Linked DNA regions of Homo sapiens. The protein of the gene in region 1 purifies or fractionates together with the protein of each later gene. This does not show direct contact. Each region holds a gene or a part of one and is shown in the gene's direction. Other genes may lie near its edges.

Region 1 (3,515 bases):
CAAGATCACCCACATCCATGCATGGCCTTTCCCATCCCGCCAAGGAGTACAGCTTGGCTAACAGCTTTTCTCTCTCACCTTTTAAATTAAAATATCTTACTACTTTTTTCTTTTTTTTTTTTCTTTTTATTTTTAGACAGGATCTTTGCTCTGTCACCCAGGCTGGAGTGCAGTGGCACGATCACGGTTCACTGCAGCCTCGACCTCCTGGGCTCAAGCAGTTCTCCTACCTCAGCCTCCCGAGTAGCTGAGACTACAGGTGTGCGCCCCCATGCCCAGCTAATTTTTGTATTTTTTGTAGAGATGGGGTTTTACCACGTTGCCTGGGCTGGTCTCAAACTCCTGGGCTCAAACAATCCACCCACCTCGGCTTCCCAAAGTGCTGGGATTACAGGCATGAGCCACTGCACCCAGCCATTTTTTTTCTTTTCTTTTTTTTTTTTTTACTTAAAAAATGTGAAAATAGCCGGGCATGGTGGCTCACGCCTGTAATCCCAGCACTTTGGGAGGCCAAGGTGGGTGGATCACCTGAGGTCAGGAGTTTGAGACCAACCTGGCCAACATGGTAAAACCCCATCTCTACTAATAATACAAAAGTTAGCTGGGCGTGGTGGTGCACGCCTGTAATCCTAGCTACTCAGGAGGCTGTGGCAAGAGAATCGCTTGAACCTGGGAGGTGGAGGTTGCAGTGAGCCGAGATGGTGCCACTGCACTCCAGCCTGGGTGACAGAGCAAGACTGTCTCAAAAAAAAAAATGTGAAAATAGAAAACTGTACACACAAAAATCACTTACAAGTTAAAGAGGCACTGTAGCATCAGCTGGAGAGCACAGACCCTGGAGGCCAACTGCCCAAGTTCAAACCCTGCTGGCCTAGGATCTTGGGCAAGTCCCTCACCCCCTCGGTTAACAGTTTCCTCTTCTGTTAAATAGGAAGAATAACACTGACCTCAGAGTTGTTATGTGAATTATTAATCCACGCAAAGCTCTTAGAAATGTGGTGGGCAGTGACTAAATGTGAACTATGAATGTTATTACCCCACCACCCCAGCACAAGAAGGAGTCACTGGTATCATTTTAGAATGCCCCCTCCAAATCTTTTTTTTTTTTTTTGGCATATGTGTAACTCTGTGTATATATATATATACATTTTTTTTTTTCCTTTTTGAGACAGGGTCTCACTTTGTCATCCAGGCTGGTGTGCAGCGGTGAGATTTCACTGCAACCTCCGCTGCCCAATCTCAAGCAATCCTCTCACCTCAGCCCCTCATGTAGCTGGGACTACCAGCATGCACCACCATGCCCAGCTAATTTTTTTGTATTTTTAGCAGAGACAGGGTCTCAAACTCCTGAGCTCAAGTGATCCACCCGCCTTGGCCTCCCAAAGTGCTGGAATTATAGGCATTAATAATATAAGTACCATCCCGACCTTGTACTTATATTATTAACTCACTCAGGAACATGGCATTAGGCTATATTGGGGTCCTTTGGCTTCCTTGTTTGCTCAGCAGTGAATCGCGTCCATATTTAGGAAGGCTCTGCTTAGTTACAGTAAGGACCATCCTCCTGATGGATGCGTACACTGCTCTTCCTGACTTTAGATGGAACTTGGTCCTGGCCTTCTCCTGCCCTTCAGTCCTGGTGTCTGGGGTGGGTCCATTGAGGCAGTCCTGTGCCGTGCATCCCCGTCATGGCTCAGCATGTGCCTAAGCCCAGCCCATCCGACTCTCCCTCCAGGGCGATGAGGGTGGAGAGCGGGTGCTACAGCAGCGCTGGACCTCCTTCCTCAAGGCCCAGCTGCTGTGCTCACGGCCCGACGATGGCTTCCCCTTCAACGTGCTGCAGGATGTCTTCACGCTGAGCCCCAGCCCCCAGGACTGGCGTGACACCCTTTTCTATGGGGTCTTCACTTCCCAGTGGTAGGGCCTCCAGACCTCGCTGGAGATGGAAGGGTGAAGGGTGGCTGGGACTGGGGCCCCCAGGGCTCCTGGGTTAATCTGGTTATTTCCTCTGCAGGCACAGGGGAACTACAGAAGGCTCTGCCGTCTGTGTCTTCACAATGAAGGATGTGCAGAGAGTCTTCAGCGGCCTCTACAAGGAGGTGAACCGTGAGACACAGCAGTGGTACACCGTGACCCACCCGGTGCCCACACCCCGGCCTGGAGCGGTGGGTACTGGCTCCCTGCACCCAGAAGGGGTGCCGGGAAGATGTGGGTCCCCACACCATGCTGGGAGCAAGGCTGCCTAGCCTCGGGCAGATCACTTGGCTTCTCTGAATCTCTTTTCTCATCTTTAATATGGGGATATAGGCCCAGGCCTGCTTGTGTACTGGGTTAGATATAAGTATGAATGTCAGAATATCTTCAGTTCTGTTTCAGGATACAAGTGTGTCCCCATCAGGGCACTTGCTGCAGGCTGTTACAATCATCTCTTCATTTGGTCCTCTCCCCTACTCAGCTGCAAGCTCCTTATTTAATTATCAAGTGACTGAATGGGCAAGCTGTGGGGAAATAATCCTTTCTTCCTCCCTTCTAGCCTAACGGGCTACCCTGATAGCAGACCTTGAGACAAGGATATACGTGCCAAATAGTTTATTAGGGAGGTGATGCCAGGAAGCAGCATGAAGGAATAGGAAGGTTGAGAGGAGGAGGGAGGGAAACCAAAAGAGGGTGTGTCAGCACGCTGTTGTTGCTGTGGGCAGCTGGAGCTGGGTCCTGCTGGAGCCCCTGACAGATGGTGTGGAGCACCTCTCAGAATTTCAGGAAGCCTCAGGCGGGGCAGGAAAGAACTGCCGACTGCACTGGGACGCTCTGCCCGGCCAGGGCTTCCTGAGAGCACTGGTGAAGGGTGCAGAGGAGCAGGGAGTGTGGTCCTGGTTCTTGAGGCCCCTGGGCATATGAGGCTGGGGTGGTGGGCAGGGAGGAGGCACAGCAAGGAAGCCCTCCAAGCACTCGGTTTCCCCGCACCCTGGGCTTTGTCCTTGCTCCCTCAGATGTGCACACTGGCTCTGTAGAGCACTGCCAGGGATGTGCCCTGGCTCCGGGCGGGGGGACAGACACCGCTACTGTCCACTGGGGAAGCAGGGCCCGCATCCTGCCTGCCACCCCGAGGTGTGGCTGGCCTCACACTGCTGCTTTCTCCTCCAGTGCATCACCAACAGTGCCCGGGAAAGGAAGATCAACTCATCCCTGCAGCTCCCAGACCGCGTGCTGAACTTCCTCAAGGACCACTTCCTGATGGACGGGCAGGTCCGAAGCCGCATGCTGCTGCTGCAGCCCCAGGCTCGCTACCAGCGCGTGGCTGTACACCGCGTCCCTGGCCTGCACCACACCTACGATGTCCTCTTCCTGGGCACTGGTAAGTGTCTGCAGCCCAGCAGGCTCAGGGGAAGGGGTGCACGTGGCTGGTGGGTCATGGGCAGTGGGCTCCACCCAGGGCCTGAGTCCTGTCCACACCCCAGGTGACGGCCGGCTCCACAAGGCAGTGAGCGTGGGCCCCCGGGTGCACATCATTGAGG
Region 2 (3,515 bases), on another chromosome or scaffold:
TTACCCCTTTTCTGAGCCTGCACATGTGCATGAGTACGCAGAGACTGCATTTGGTTTTGTTTTTAGAAAATGGGATTTATATATATATATACAATTTGTTTTCATAATATATCACTTTCTAACATTATGCCATATTTATGTGTGGTAATCAATAAAATTTAAGTTTCTTGAGGGTGGGAACTGTAGCAACCATATCCATTTTCTCTTCATGACACCTCACATACTTCTCTGTACATGAGGATTCTCAGTAAATGCTCATAGGTTGACTATAGCAAATCTTTTTTACTCAGTTTTTATAAAATTGAGACAGCAATATAGAGGAATATCTTAAAGATAGTTTTTATGTGTTAAAGTAATGATTTGTTATCGTCCCTGTTCCACTAATATAGTAAGAATGAAAATAATTGCCTTTCATTTTATTTCAGAGTAATATCTGAGGAAATCACGGGAGCTCACTAGTATGGAAGTTATTGTAACTGCAAAACAAACTTTTTAGGAAATGAAGGATATTAACACATCTTTCGAGATTTATAGTCTAATGCCAAGTGAATTAGCCAAGAAGAAATAGAGCCACAATACTTGGAAATAGCTTGATTGAGAAGTTAAACATTTACTTAATCTCATCTTAGCTGATTAGAAAAAAAATCACTTTGATTTTAGGCAATATATGCTTATTAATGGTCTTTAGAAACTACCTAGTTGATCTGACCTAGAGAACAAACAGGGCTCTTTTTAGCTTATTGGAGTCCATACTTAAGTCGGAAGACCCAGAGTCAAGTTGCTGCCCTGTCATTGACTAGCTGTGCAATCCACTTACAGATTCCTGTGCCCTCCTATTTCATAGGGTTGTCTGAATTAGTTACATTAAAATGTTTTATAAATAATTAAGTGCTGGTCCATTGTAAGATACTATCATTATTTGCTTGAAGTAGTTAAGGGAATGAGACTCACCTAAACTCATATTTTTACCTAGGGATTATTTTTATAATGCATTTGTTGCTAGTTAGTTACAAGCATTAAATTAGTCACAGGCCAGGCGTGGTAGCTCACACCTGTAATTCCAGCATTTTGGGGGAGGTCTAGGTGTGAGTATACTTGAGGACAGGAGTTTGAGACCAGCCTGAACAGCATAGCAAGACCCCTTTCTACAAAAATAAAAAATCACCAGGTGCAGTGGCTCATTCCTGTAATCTCAGCACTTTGGGAGGCTGAGGCAGGTGGATCCCTTGAGGTCAACATGGTAAAACCCTGTCTCTACTAAAAATGCAAAAATTAGCCGGGCGTGTTGGTGCACACCTGTAATCCCAGCTACTCAGGAGGCTGAGGCAGGAGAGTTGCTTGAACTTGGGAGGAAGAGGTTGCAGTGAGCCAAGATTGCGCCACTGCACACTAGCCTGGGCAACAAAGCGAGACCTCTTTTCTAAATAAATAAGTAAATATTGCCACACATGTTGGCATGCGCCTCTGTAGTCCTAGCTACTCAGGAGGCTGAGGTGGGAGGATCTTTTGAGCCCAGGAGTTCTAGGCTGTATTGTGCTATGATCCCGCCAATGCATTCCTTGGATGACAGAGCAAGACTCTATCTCTAAAAATAATTAATAATTTAAGCATAAAATAGCATTTCAAAGTCACTTCTAGTTTAAATAGCAGCATGGAACAAAAACCGGGATAATAGGAGAACTGTCTTTATGCAGTTTATCCAGTAGGTGGAGGTATATATCTGTTATATGTTTGTTAGTATATGTTCACCTTCAGCCTGTTGAGAGAAAAATTATGAAAAGTACACAAGCAAAATATTTCCCCTAAGACTTGGCATGATCAATTTTGTTTTACTTTAAAAATAAAAATTAATATATTTAAATAGTTGGTAATTCCACAGGACTAGAGTTACTGATTTACTAATAGGATAAATTGTCTCACTGGATTTGAAACCTTTTACCCAAATGCCAAGTTAGCCCTCTTGTTAAGTTCTTAAATCATCTTAAAATCATTTCTATATTAAATATTTTTGTTTCATAAACTTTTGATAAAAATGTGCAGCATCTTAATATTTTTCCAAATTATGATTATTTTCTTAAAAATTGATCCTTATTATCATACTTTCCAGATGTAATTTAAGGCCTAGAGCAAAGAACAAAAACATGTTTAAGTGGAGAAATTTAGCCCTGACCTCTATTGATTTGAAGTACCAATTTTTTGTTGTTTTTTTAAAGATATTTCAAGGAAACAAAGATTATCACCAGGATGTGCGTAATAACTTTTTGCCACCAATTATTGCACGTTTTATTAGAGTGAATCCTACCCAATGGCAGCAGAAAATTGCCATGAAAATGGAGCTGCTCGGATGTCAGTTTATTCCTAAAGGTAAAGAGACAGTTCGTTTAAGATATGTTTTTACTGGATTGCCAATTTAAAATGGTTTTGCTGTTCTCAGAGAGAGTAATTAATAATGTGAGTGTCTTTCTGGTTAAACTCTAATTACAATATCTTCTTAAAGGGATGTTAAAAAAAATGGTTACCCTATTAAAAAGTTAGTTATAAGAATGGTTTCCAAAATTATAAGTGGAAGAAGAAATAGCATCATTCATAAGATAATGTAAATGAGATCACTTTCCAAATTTAATCTCAATCCTAATAATTTTAAATCAGGTGTCATGTACTGTAATATTTGTTTAACATAAGCATGAAAGATTGTAACAATACATTTAAAGCAAGAATAATTTATCTCAATATTATACATTTTAATATACTGTTTACTTTTGTACGCCCAAAGGCTACCACAGTGCCTGACACATCGTTGGCCCTCCATAAATAACTATTAAATGAATTGAATAAGTACTGTATCAAAATGTGGATGACTCCTTTATAGCTTTAGCATTCAACATCACTTTCCACCCCATTATTCTTCTTCCTAAGATTATTTTCAGATGATTTAATTATTTAAAAACTGAGAAATCCTGGCATATTTGTGCCTTTATTGCAGAGTATAATATTTATCCTTCCAATATATTTCTCTCTGAGAGTTAAAATTATTCTGCAGAATTAAATACTTTAGGAAATATTGAAGACATTTAGCATTACTATTTTTAATTATGATTTTTAAAAACAAAATGTTTAAATTTTTCTAAACCATTTTTCAAGGTCGTCCTCCAAAACTTACTCAACCTCCACCTCCTCGGAACAGCAATGACCTCAAAAACACTACAGCCCCTCCAAAAATAGCCAAAGGTATGCCTGTTTTTAATGTGAGAATTTGATATTCCTTGGATTTATGGTGCAACTTTCCAAAAATATATTAAAAGCATTATCAAATAAGTTTATGTTAATCAAGTTGGTACAGATTAAAAAGTAAAGAGCTTTTGAAACTTTTTTAAAGGTCGTGCCCCAAAATTTACGCAACCACTACAACCTCGCAGTAGCAATGAATTTCCTGCACAGACAGAACAAACAACTGCCAGTCCTGATATCAGAAATACTACCGTAACTCCAAATGTAACCAAAGGTATGCAAACATG

Evidence for each region. Proteins that work in one complex are often made in the same cells at the same time.
Region 2: the proteins of SEMA4B (region 1) and DCBLD2 purify together in Homo sapiens (affinity purification with western blotting, with the first as the bait; one study listed by BioGRID). This does not show direct contact.

What each region holds. Positions count from the first base shown.
Region 1 is NC_000015.10:90,221,824-90,225,338, forward strand, and holds part of SEMA4B (semaphorin-4B isoform 1 precursor), read left to right. Parts: intron 1-1,735; coding exon 1,736-1,917; intron 1,918-2,014; coding exon 2,015-2,165; intron 2,166-3,144; coding exon 3,145-3,355; intron 3,356-3,458; coding exon 3,459-3,515. UniProt on the Homo sapiens protein: Inhibits axonal extension by providing local signals to specify territories inaccessible for growing axons.
Region 2 is NC_000003.12:98,811,181-98,814,695, reverse strand, and holds part of DCBLD2 (discoidin, CUB and LCCL domain-containing protein 2 precursor), read left to right. Parts: intron 1-2,213; coding exon 2,214-2,364; intron 2,365-3,141; coding exon 3,142-3,228; intron 3,229-3,376; coding exon 3,377-3,502; intron 3,503-3,515.